2 separate regions of the Homo sapiens genome follow, and region 2 is linked to region 1. The links come from fine-mapping of genetic effects on gene expression. A gene starts in region 1. The other region holds a variant in brackets. All regions are shown on one strand. Distances are between the middles of the regions.

Region 1 (5,000 bases):
GTGTGTGTTGGGGGGTTGTCTCGAGGAAGGTACCTTGGTTTATGGCCCCTGCGGCCTCTCTCTCACTTCCCCCTTTCCCTAGGTTAAGGAGGAAATGAAATGGATGCACCCCAGTATGCGTGCGTGTTGGGGAGTTGTCTTGAGGAAGGTACCTTGGTTTATGGATCCAGGATACTGGGTGGGTGTCCCCCTGACCTTGGACAGGACCCATGTGCAATGTGGAGCTCGGGACACTCTGAGACACACCTGATCCCTGAACAGAAAGGCCTGGCTCTGAGGGCCATCCTGCGTAGTTCCTGTCACCTAGAAGCCAGGCATGGGCCCACATCCTGTTCAAACAGCTCTGAGCAAATGGATGTCCAAGGTTGCAATGGAGCTTGACCTCACCTGCAGGGATGGGAAGGACCCCAGAAGCGGTACCCTGGAATCACCCTTGGAGGGTGCATGTTCAAAATTTGGAGTCAGTGCACCTGGGCTGGGGCTTAGAGATTCTGGGTTTAAGAAGCCCTCCAGCGATTCTGCTCCATCTAGTGCACTTTGAGAAAGGTTGGGCTGGAGATGACATCTCCTGCCACACCCAAACTCCTCTCCCTGATCCCAAGCTGAGTCAGGGTGCTTCGGGCACATGATCACAGCCAATCATGTGTCCACCTTTGTCTACAGGATGAAGTCCAAATTACCTGAGGCTAGGCCTCAAGTTACTCCAAGAACTGCCCTCCCAACCTTATCTCCTGCCTCCTGACCCACGTCTTCAGTCATTTCAGGTCTCCAGGCTTCTGCACGTGCCATCTCTTCCCCTAGAAGTGTCCTGCTCCCCTTCAAGGGCCTGGTCATGAGATAAGAAGACTCACTTCTAAATTGCCCTTTCAAAGATGCCCCATGAGAGCTGGCTGGACAGGACCTTCCACCTCCTCCTCTCCCCTTGTCCACACACCTGAAGAACGCTACCACCGTCCTCTGCGACCACTGTCTTTGAAACGTACTCTCCCCACCCTGGGTTGTGCATTTCTTATTCTCCAGGTGTAAACACACCTAGAGGTTCAGCAAATGTTGAGAGACAGTGAGAGAAAGAGAGAGGTAGAGAGAAGGACAGAGTGAAGAAGAGAGGAAACGGGTGAGAAAGGAGAAAGGGTGGAAGAGAGAGAAGAGGAAGGAAAGGAGAAAGGAAGGGGAGAAAGCTGTGAGCTCGAACAGCCCAGGGTTGAGGAGAAAAGCACTCTGGAACAGACCTGCCCGATGCCTACCAGTCTGGAACTCAAGTGATTGAGCTTCGTAGTTCTCATCTGAAAAGTAGGGGAATAATGCAATACCCACCACCTAGGCTGACTGCAGAGTTAAATGAGACAATCCAGGCCAAGCGATTACAAGGGTGCCTGGCACTGGCACTCAACACCAACAGCCCAAAATGACTATTATTTGTTCTCATTGTAGCCCCTCCAGCGTCCGGGCACACAGGCGCCTTCAGTAAGCGTTGATTAGACATGACCTGTGACCCAGGCCCGGGACCCCTCACACTTCCAGACTCAGACTCTCCATTTACACGTTTGGAAACCTACCCTAAGCACGGCGTGGGAGGAGGCAGTGTAGGCCCTCGGTCCCTGCAGACCTGGGGAGATTGTGGAGGGAGGAGCGTCCCAGCTCGGGGCTACCACCCACTCCAGGCCTCGGCGTCCTCGGCCACAGCTCCCTCCTGGTGACTCAGCCCGGCGCGGGCCGCCTGTTTGGAGGGATAATGATAGGACAGCTGCTGGGGCCAGCGCCGCGAGGGCCCCTCGCCCGGCCGGCCCGGGAAAAACGAAGCCATCAGATGCCAAGGGGCCGGTCGGCCGGGGCAGGGCAACTCCTGGCCAGGCCAGCTCGAGAGGCCGCGCTGGTCGCCTTTGAGGTGGGGGGCCACTGGCTGCGGATTCCCGAGGGCCACCCAGTCCCGGCCCGGAGCCTCGTCCCACGATATCGCGCCACAAGGAGGGCGCAGGAGCCGGGACAGTCCAGCGGCCGGAGGAGAGGGCTGGAAGGATGTGGCAGGGAAGCCCAGGAGCCCCGACCCCCAGCCGTGAAGTTTGCCACCTGCCCCCGGTCCGGCTCACCACGTCCAGATCCGCCGCCAGGGCCCAGCTTCTGGGTCAAGGCCCGCCGGGTCAGCTGACCGCGCGCCACCGCCCCCGCGGGAACCGCAGGCCCCGCCCCCACGCCGCGCGCTGGGCTGACCGGGCCTGGAGGCGCCGCTGGGGCCGCGCCTGTTGTCCCCGCCCCCAACTGCCTCCGCGCTCCTCCCCGGCATGGGCGGGGCCCCCGGCTCCCAACGCGCAGGCGCCGCTGCTATGCTGAGTGCCGCGTCTCGCGTAGTCTCCCGCGCCGCCGTCCACTGCGCGCTTCGCTCTCCGCCGCCCGAGGCCCGCGCGCTCGCCATGTCCCGGCCACCGCCACCGCGGGTCGCCTCGGTGCTGGGCACCATGGAGATGGGGCGCCGCATGGACGCGCCCGCCAGCGCCGCGGCCGTGCGCGCCTTTCTGGAGCGCGGCCACACCGAACTGGACACGGCCTTCATGTACAGCGACGGCCAGTCCGAGACCATCCTGGGCGGCCTGGGGCTCGGGCTGGGCGGTGGCGACTGCAGAGGTAACAGTAGCTGCAGATCCTCCCCATGCATCGTGTAGAGCTGAGCCTGTCCCCAGCCGTGCACCACCCCGCTCGGGCCCGGCCGCGGGCAGCACCGACGGATTCGTCCCTCGCTCCCCACCCCAGGTCCACCCCGCAGCTCTGGGAACCCCGGGACAACTAGACAGTGCTTTGCCCTGACTCCTTTCCCCCACTCTCCTTCCCTTGGGAGTTGCAGCGCGAGAGTCTCCCCCCAGCCTGGTCTGACCCATCGCTTCCCACCTCCATTGATGCCCCCGCCTCCAAACCTGCCAGGTGCCCACAACCGGTCCCCACCCAGGCTCTCCCCCTTTTCTCTACCCCTTCGTTACCATCATCACGCATGCACACCCTGGGCACCCTTTTCTCATCCTGGCCTTTTCTTAACCACTAGAATTTGACCTGTGCAGCTGGCAGTACCTCTGCCTCTCTCAGGGAGAACTGTGGCGATGCCGTAAGGCTGGCTGGGAGAGTAGGAGTGTTAGGGAGTGCGGACGGGTCAGGGTGTAGGGACTTTCTATCCACTCTATGCCAGGCTTTGACTTGGGGCCATAGGAGGGAAAGTGATTCCAGCCCTCCACAGGGAGTTCAGAGTCTAATGAGGAAGATTGAAGTAATGATTGCTGGAGAGCCCAGAAGAGAGAGTACTTTAGGGAGCTGCAGGCCGGGGAGAGGCACTAGGGAAGGCTCAGCAAATGCTGGATGGAGCTCAGCCTTAAAGGCTCAATGGTAGGTTGGAGGAGAACAAGAGAAAGGAACATTAGAGTCTGTGCAAAGACTTGGTTTGGAAATGCAATGTGCGTGATGTGTGAAAGGAAGGCCACTGGGCAGGTGGGGCTTGAGTGGAGGATGGAGGGGACTGTCCCTCGTGAGCCTGGTGCCCTTGATAGCCCTTGGGAGGGTGCCTGGCACTCAGTGAGGGCCCAGGGAACGTGGGCTGTTACCCTTACCATGCTTCACCCACTGGACTATCCTGAGGCTGTTGCTCCCCACCCCTGAGGAGAGGTTCTCTCTGGGTCCTCCTGAGTCATAGCGCTTGGGGGGTCGGGGGGAAAAGAGGGCAAATGTGAATCTCAGGCCCACGCTGTTTCTAGTTCACCTGGCTGCATGTTGTTGTTTTTGTTATTATTATTATTTGAGACGGAATCTTGCTCTGTCACCCAGGGTGGAGTGCAATGGCACGATCTCAGCTCACTGCAACCTCTGCCTCAGCCTCCCAAGTAACTGGGATTACAGGTGCACACGGCCACGCCCAGCTAATTTTTGTATTTTTAGTAGAGATGGGGTTTCACCATATTGGCCAGGCTGGTCTTCAACTCCTGACCTCAAGTGATCTGCCCACCTCAGCCTCCCAAAGTGCTGGGATTATAGGTGTAAGCCACCACGCCCGGCCACGTTACATACTATTAATAATGAAGATTTTGTTCCTGAGTTGGTTTTTCTTCTCTAACCCTTCCCCGCTTCCGTCTTTGGGGCCAGGAGCTCACTGAACCAAAGTCCTCAGGCCAGGCCTGAGGCACAGTTCATGCCAAGAATGCCTGGGGCGTTGTGGGGAAATGGAGAAAATCTGGATGAGAAACTGTGGAACTTGTTCTGTCCCATATCCCAACTGATCTCGTGACACCCTTCTGAGCTACTGAGCTGACTTTGCTAAGTATGAAAAGTGCAGAATCCATCCCCCAACCAATCCAGACAGCTGGGGTTCTTTTTTTTTGTTTTGTTTTTTGTTTTTTGACACAGAGTCTCACTCTGTCGCCCAGGCTGGAGTGCAGTAGCACAATCTGGACTCACTGCAACCTCTGCCTCCCAGGTTCAAGTGATTCTCCTGCCTCAGCCTCCTAAGTAGCTGGGGTTACAGGCACGTGCCACCACGCCTGGCTAATTTTTGTATTTTTAGTAGAGACAGAGTTTCACCATGTTGGCCAAGGCTGGTCTCGAACTCCTGACCTCAGGTGATCCACCCACTTCAGCCTCCGAAAGTGCTGGGATTACAGGCGTGAGCTACCTTTCCTGGCCCAGCTGGGGTTCTTTTTTAATTTTTATTTTTGTAGAGGGAGGGTCTTGCTACATTGTCCAGGATTATCTCAAACTCTTGGGCTCAAGTAATTCTCCCTACTCAGCCTCCCAAAGTACTCCCAAACTAGGTTTACAGACTTGAGCCACTACATCTGGACCAACAGCTGGGGTTCTTTATAGGGGAAAGAATAGTGCAGAATTAACTCATTTCCAAGCTGCTCGGATGCAGAACACTGTTGTCATAGCGATGTGTCCCTACAGTGTTTGGATATATGCTCATGCTTCTGTGAGTCAGGAAGGGGAGGGGAGAATTATAATTACATTCTGCTCAGTTTGCCTTCTAAGCT
Region 2 (5,510 bases), 39 kb before region 1:
ACTACTAGAGGCTGTCAGGAGGGCTTTGAGGTTTCTAGGGAGTCCAATGATCTGATTGGATCTGTGTTTTCAGAAGGTGGCTCTGCCAGTCGGCTTGGGGGATGGGTGGTCAGGGGGAAGCTGTTACAGTCATCAAGGAGAGAGATGACAAGGGCCTGGATCAGGCAGCCCTGGGAGGGTCAGAGGGGACAGCCCTGCAGCAGAGAGGTCAGTGAAGAAGCTAGTGTCAGTCTGAGGCATGAGGTGGCAAGGGCAGAAACAGAAGGGCAGGGGAAGAGGGGCAGGCTGGGGGGCATTCTGGCGTGGCGTGGTCAGGGGCTGGACGACCAAGATGTGAGGTGGGGGTCAGATGAGAGCCCCTCACTCGAGTTCCTCCTTACACAGTCCTTACAGCAACCTGGGCCTGGGTTTTTCCTCTGGAAACCTGGCCTCATCCAGGTCACCCACGCTCACATGCCCTTGCCCCACGTGTGTCAGGAAGGAAGGCTGCTTGGTTTTGGAGCTGTCTCCCCAGGCCCACAGTGCCAGGCCCTAGCCCCAAGAGCCATCCCAGCCAGCATCAGCACCCTCAGCAAGGCCCCATGGGTCCTCAGCTTTCCCAGGGTCCTGTGGCCCAGCCTGCCTCACCCCGGCAGCAGCGGCAGCTGCCCTTCCCTGTGTGTGGCCCCGGGCGCACCCTTGTCTTCCTGTTTCCCACGGCCCATCTGGAGAAGGCCGCCAGCTTTGGCTTGCTGGCACCTCGCAGGGGTCCCTTCCGTGGGCACATCAGGCTATGCCCTGTGCCCACTCGTGCCCCAGTGTAGGCGGCTGGTGGTAGGCCAGTGGCCGGGGCAGAGCGCCACTCTCCTGGGCACGTGGCCTGCCAGCCAGCCAGAACACAGCCAGACCAGGCGATGCTGCCTCCACCTAGCCCTGCCTCCATCATTTTCGGCTTTTACTTCTCCCACCTCCAACCACCAAAAGATGTTTCTCAGGGACGTCAACTGGAAGACAAGGTAAACAGCTAAAGTATTCTGGCAAATTCCCGCAGCAGTGAGGCTGTCGGAGTGAAGGTGAGCCGCAGGCCGGCCGGATCATACCTTCCTGCCCAGGCTTGTGGATGTGTGTGAGGAAAGGCGGGCAGAAGGTACCCTCTGGTACACTGCCACGTGGCCCCCCATGGGAGGGTTGTAGAGCAAGCGAAAAAAGGTTGCAAGCCCCAAGTTCCAAAATGTTGAAAAGGAAGTTGTACTGAGAGGTCACTTCTCCTATGTGACAGCAGAGACGTGGGAAAGAGGCGAGATTGTAAATCTCTGGAAAGAGATCCAAGGTTTCCCATCCGGGGAAGGGCCCTGCAGATGTTCGTTTGATATTTTCTCAGCTTCTAAATATTTAGAAATGAAGGTGGAATGTTTTGTTGAGTGGGGAGATCAGGCAGGTCATTGGCTAGTGAGCAGTCTCTCCCCACTCAGCAGAGACACCCCCAATATATCTTCAGGCAGTAAATCCCCAGTAGAGGCACTTGCCTGTGTATCCTAGCAGGAACATCCTCTTTGACTTGCGTTTGGCAGTTAGGCCAGGCAGTATATTTTTGTCACAGGGAAGAAGCCCATTGCCCTTCCAGATGCAGGGAACAGAGGGTGGGCCGGGCCCAGCTTGGCAGTTCCAGGAGTGCACGCTCGCTGGGGAGGCCTGGCTGCAGCTGCACACCCGCTCCTCGTGTCCTGTGGGGTTGCCTGGGTTCAGGGGTGGAGATGCTTGAGCAGCGCAGCTTCAAGGGGCGTCTGGGTTTTTGCCAGATGACCTGGGGTGGAGTGACCAGTGCCTGGCTGAGAAGGAAAGCTGGCCTGAGACAGGCTCCCCACAACCATCCCGTGCTGTGAAGGGCGGAAACAGGAGACGAAGGGACCGGAGATCCCTGGCAGGAGGCGGCTGAGGCAGGGATGGACCCTGCTCAGGTTTTCTGAGCCCTGGATTGTGGTTTGTCCTTCAGTTTTCTGGTAAAGGATGTATGTGAAATTGAGCCAGCAGAGAGATCTCATAAAAGGAAGCAGGTTTCAGAATCACCCAGACCTTGATTCAGATCCTAGCTCAGGAACTTTCCAGCTGTGTGACCTAGACAGACCTCCACCTCTTTGAAACTCAGTGTTGATAATGCCCATTTTGAAAGATAATAGTTCCAGCACTTTGAGAGGCTGAGGCAAGAAGATTGTTTGGCCAGGGGTTCAAGACCAACCTGGGCAACAGTTGCACTGCCCCCCACCCCTTCACCCCTCCCAACAAAACAAAAAGTTATCTGGGTAGGGTGGCATCTGTGGTCCTAGCTTCTTGGGAGTCTGAGATGGGAGGATCACTTGAGCCCAGGAGTTTGAGGTTATAGTGAGCTATGATTGCACCATTGCATTCCAGCCTGGGCAGCAGAGCAAGACCCTGTCTCTAAAAAACATAATAAACAAATTTTATTAAAAAAAAAAAATGGAAAGATCGGGTGCAGTGGCTCATGCCTGTAATCCCAGCACTTTGGGAGGCCAAGGCAGGTGGATCACGAGGTCAGGAGTTCGAGATCAGCCTGACCAACACGGTGAAACCCCATCTGTACTAAAAATACAAAAATCAGCTGGGTGTGGTGGCATGCACCTGTAATCTCAGCTACTCAGGAGGCTGAGGCAGGAGAATCACTTGAACCCGGGAGGCAGAGGTTGCAGTGAGCCAAGATCGCGCCATTGCACTCCAGCCTGGGCGACAGAGCAAGACTCCATCTCAAAAAAAAAAAAAGGAAAGATCATTGTAGAGTAGAAACAAAAAACTGTTTTACACACAGTTTTATGCTCAATAAATAATAACTTTTGCCAGGCGCGATGGCTCATGCCTGTAATCCCAACACTGGGAGGCCAAGGCAGGCAGATCACTTGAGCTCGAGAGTTTGAGACCAGCCTGGGCAACAAAGTAAGACCCCATCTCTCTACAAAAAATACAAAAATTAGCCAGGTGAGGCAGCAGTGTGCCTGTAGTCCCAGCTATTCAGGAGGCTGAGGTGGGAGGATGGCCTGAACCTGGGAGGCCGAGGTTGCAGTGAGCCGTGGTGACAACACTGTGCTCCAGCCTGGGCAACACAGCCAGACCCTGTCTCAAAAATAAAAATAAAAACAAT[T/AACTTTT]ACTGCTACTACCATATATCTTGCAAGGAGAGGCTTTTTGAATATGTACAATTCTAGATTCAAAATTTTCCTAAACTGGGCAACCGTAACTTTCCCTGGGAAGCCGTCTGACCACCATCTTCTGGCCTGGCTGCACGCCGGGTCCTGACCTCCAACCCACAGCACAGTGTGGTGACCAGGAGGATGCCAGAGGCCAGAAGAGTGCTGGGGATGGAGCTGTGCTTTGACAATCGGTGAGAGCTGCCATTCTGGCAAGTCCCGCTCTAGGCCTTTTGTGTACATTTGTTTATTTAGTGCGAGGTGAAGGCAAAGACATGGAGGCCTAGACAAGCCCAGGCCCTTTCCTCTCGGGCTGCAGCACAGGAGCTGCGGGGCCTCAGCGCCGGTGAGTGGGGCCCATGCCTTAGGGCCACGCCCTGCGGGTCGCGCTAGAAGATGCCACGTGGCAGTGGGAGGTGTAATACATCCCCTCTGGGGGAAAGGCTGCCAGCTTCCAAACACTTGCCTGTGTTAGGGCCATGGGGAGGAGGAGAGGCGCCTGCTGGGGACACACGGGCCAGGCTCCGGCTTCAGACGCCATTGGAACCACCTCGTGGAACATCTGCAGCCACAACACATGAAAATGTTTTCCTTCCGGCAGCCACTTTTATAAGGATGTAATAATATATGCAGTGCACAAATGGTTCTGTTTTTGGTGGGTTGGTATTGCCACCGAGCCGACCCTGACCAGGTGTGGAGGGGAGTGAGCAGGGGCGGGCAAGGGGGCTGTGGAAATACGGCCGGGTGCACCGAGCCCTGTGCCCCTCACTCCCCAAGCACCTTTCTCCTTCCCTCCCCAGCCGCTGCGTGGCCATTTACGTGGGCTCAGCTTCCCTGCCATGGGCTGAGGGGGCCTGTGTTCTAGGGGATCAGTCTGCTCCTGGGGACAGTGTCGCACACTGCAAGACCCAGCCCTCTCCTCCACCCGACCTCTCCTACCTTTGTTGGCCAAGGGGTTTCGCCTGTTTGTTTTAAGATGGCTCTTGATTCTGAAACACAAAGATGGTAACCAAGAGGCCAAATTGCTGATGTGACTGGACTTGCCCAGGTGACCCAGGACCTTTGCCGATGGCCGCGGCCTCTCTTTGGGCTGTTGGTGCCCATTTAAAATGGGGCCCACAGTGAGCTCAAAACCCTCATCCCTTCCCTAGGGTGGCCGGGAATCTGCCGTCCACATGGAGCCGGGGAGGAGGAGAGACTCTGATTTGCTGGAAGGACCTCATTCATTTCCATCCAACCCCCAGGCTTCCCTGCCTGCCGAGCTGACTCCACCCAGCCCTGAGCCTAGGCACAGTAACCACCTTCACGTCTGGGAGAACACACAGTCCCCGGGGGCCAGCATGCAAAAGTTCTTTTTGAAGCTGGGTGGATGGAGCCCCCTCCCTCCTGAGGGTGCTCCCCAGCTCCTGTTGAGCAGACAGCCCACCCCGTCGTCTTGGCACCAGGGTTTTGCTAGTGGCAGATAAAGATGATGTTCCAGCAGACGCTCCAGTGCTGCCGAGGTTGGTGTGTTTATTAGACCTGAAATGAGAACTGTGACTCTCAAGCTCATGGGCACTCTCACTACTCCTGTTTTATGGAGACCCCCTGGGGTCTGAGGGTCGAGATTCCTCAGGATGACTTGCCAGAGCATGCCAAGACAGATGGGAGCAGAGAAGCCGGTCTTTCTAGCATTTCTCTCCCTCTTTTCCACTAGTCCTCAGTAAAACAGCCTTGCCAGAACCAGATGTCTTTTTTCTGCAGATATTTACTGTTATGACTTGGGAGGCAGCAGGTTCTGGACTGTTGCCCTCACCTAGACCGCCCCCCCCCCTTGTCAGATGCCACCCGTTTTCTCAGACCCGTCGGTCTCCCAGACCACATTGCTTTGTGAGCAGATGCCTGTCAGGGACAGCTCTATCAGAACAGACCGAGTCCAGCCCAGTGAGCCGTGATGTTCTCTCACTGCTCGGTCCCCCCTCTGCCATCTACAGCGACATAGGTTGGGTCTGTTCCCCTGGCAGACAGCAGGCCTTCAGAGCCCTGCCAGAATCTCTTGTGTCTCCCCTAGCACACACACATCCCTCCCCACCCACCACCGCCAGGCCTGGATAGCCCTAGTTCTCTCCCATTTCTTGGTGTCAGGGTGTTCAGACCTTTTAAGCAGATGAATGCTAACTCATTCAAGGCTTTTAAAACCCAGTGCCTTAGCAGGGTACAGTGGCACACACCTGTAGTTACAGCTGTGTGGGAGGATTGCAGGAGTTCCTGTCTAGCCTGGGCAACATAGCAAGACCTCCTTGTCTTTTAAAAGAAAATTAAAAAAAAAAAAGTGCCCTAAACTGAATCCAGCCCTGCAGAT

Which allele goes with the higher level. Positions count from the first base shown, and alleles are read on the strand shown. Sizes are in standard deviations (SD) of each study's normalised expression.
As copies of T replace AACTTTT in region 2, the expression in monocytes of the gene that starts at base 2,120 in region 1 goes down (large effect, 0.81 SD a copy in Schmiedel 2018).

The links. PIP is the estimated chance that this variant, and not a neighbour inherited with it, causes the effect. A credible set is the group of variants that fine-mapping cannot tell apart.
Region 2: its variant is the best candidate, but not a certain one, in a credible set for the expression of SLC66A1 in monocytes (Schmiedel 2018, PIP 0.56).

What each region holds. Positions count from the first base shown.
Region 1 is chr1:19,309,446-19,314,445 of GRCh38, reverse strand. SLC66A1 (solute carrier family 66 member 1) reads right to left here and starts at 2,120. Exons shown (of 8, transcript NM_001040125.2): 1 at 1,557-2,120. It overlaps AKR7A2 (aldo-keto reductase family 7 member A2), which reads left to right and starts at 2,302. Exons shown (of 7, transcript NM_003689.4): 1 at 2,302-2,619. The coding sequence starts at 2,322. RefSeq lists silencers at 1,811-1,900, 1,981-2,620 and an enhancer at 2,212-2,711.
Region 2 is chr1:19,348,232-19,353,741 of GRCh38, reverse strand. All of the region lies in intron 6 of CAPZB (capping actin protein of muscle Z-line subunit beta), which reads left to right. Among named protein-coding and RNA genes, the nearest start is that of SLC66A1, 39 kb to the right of the region's middle. RefSeq lists an enhancer at 1-499. The variant T/AACTTTT (reference allele first, on the strand shown) is at 3,131.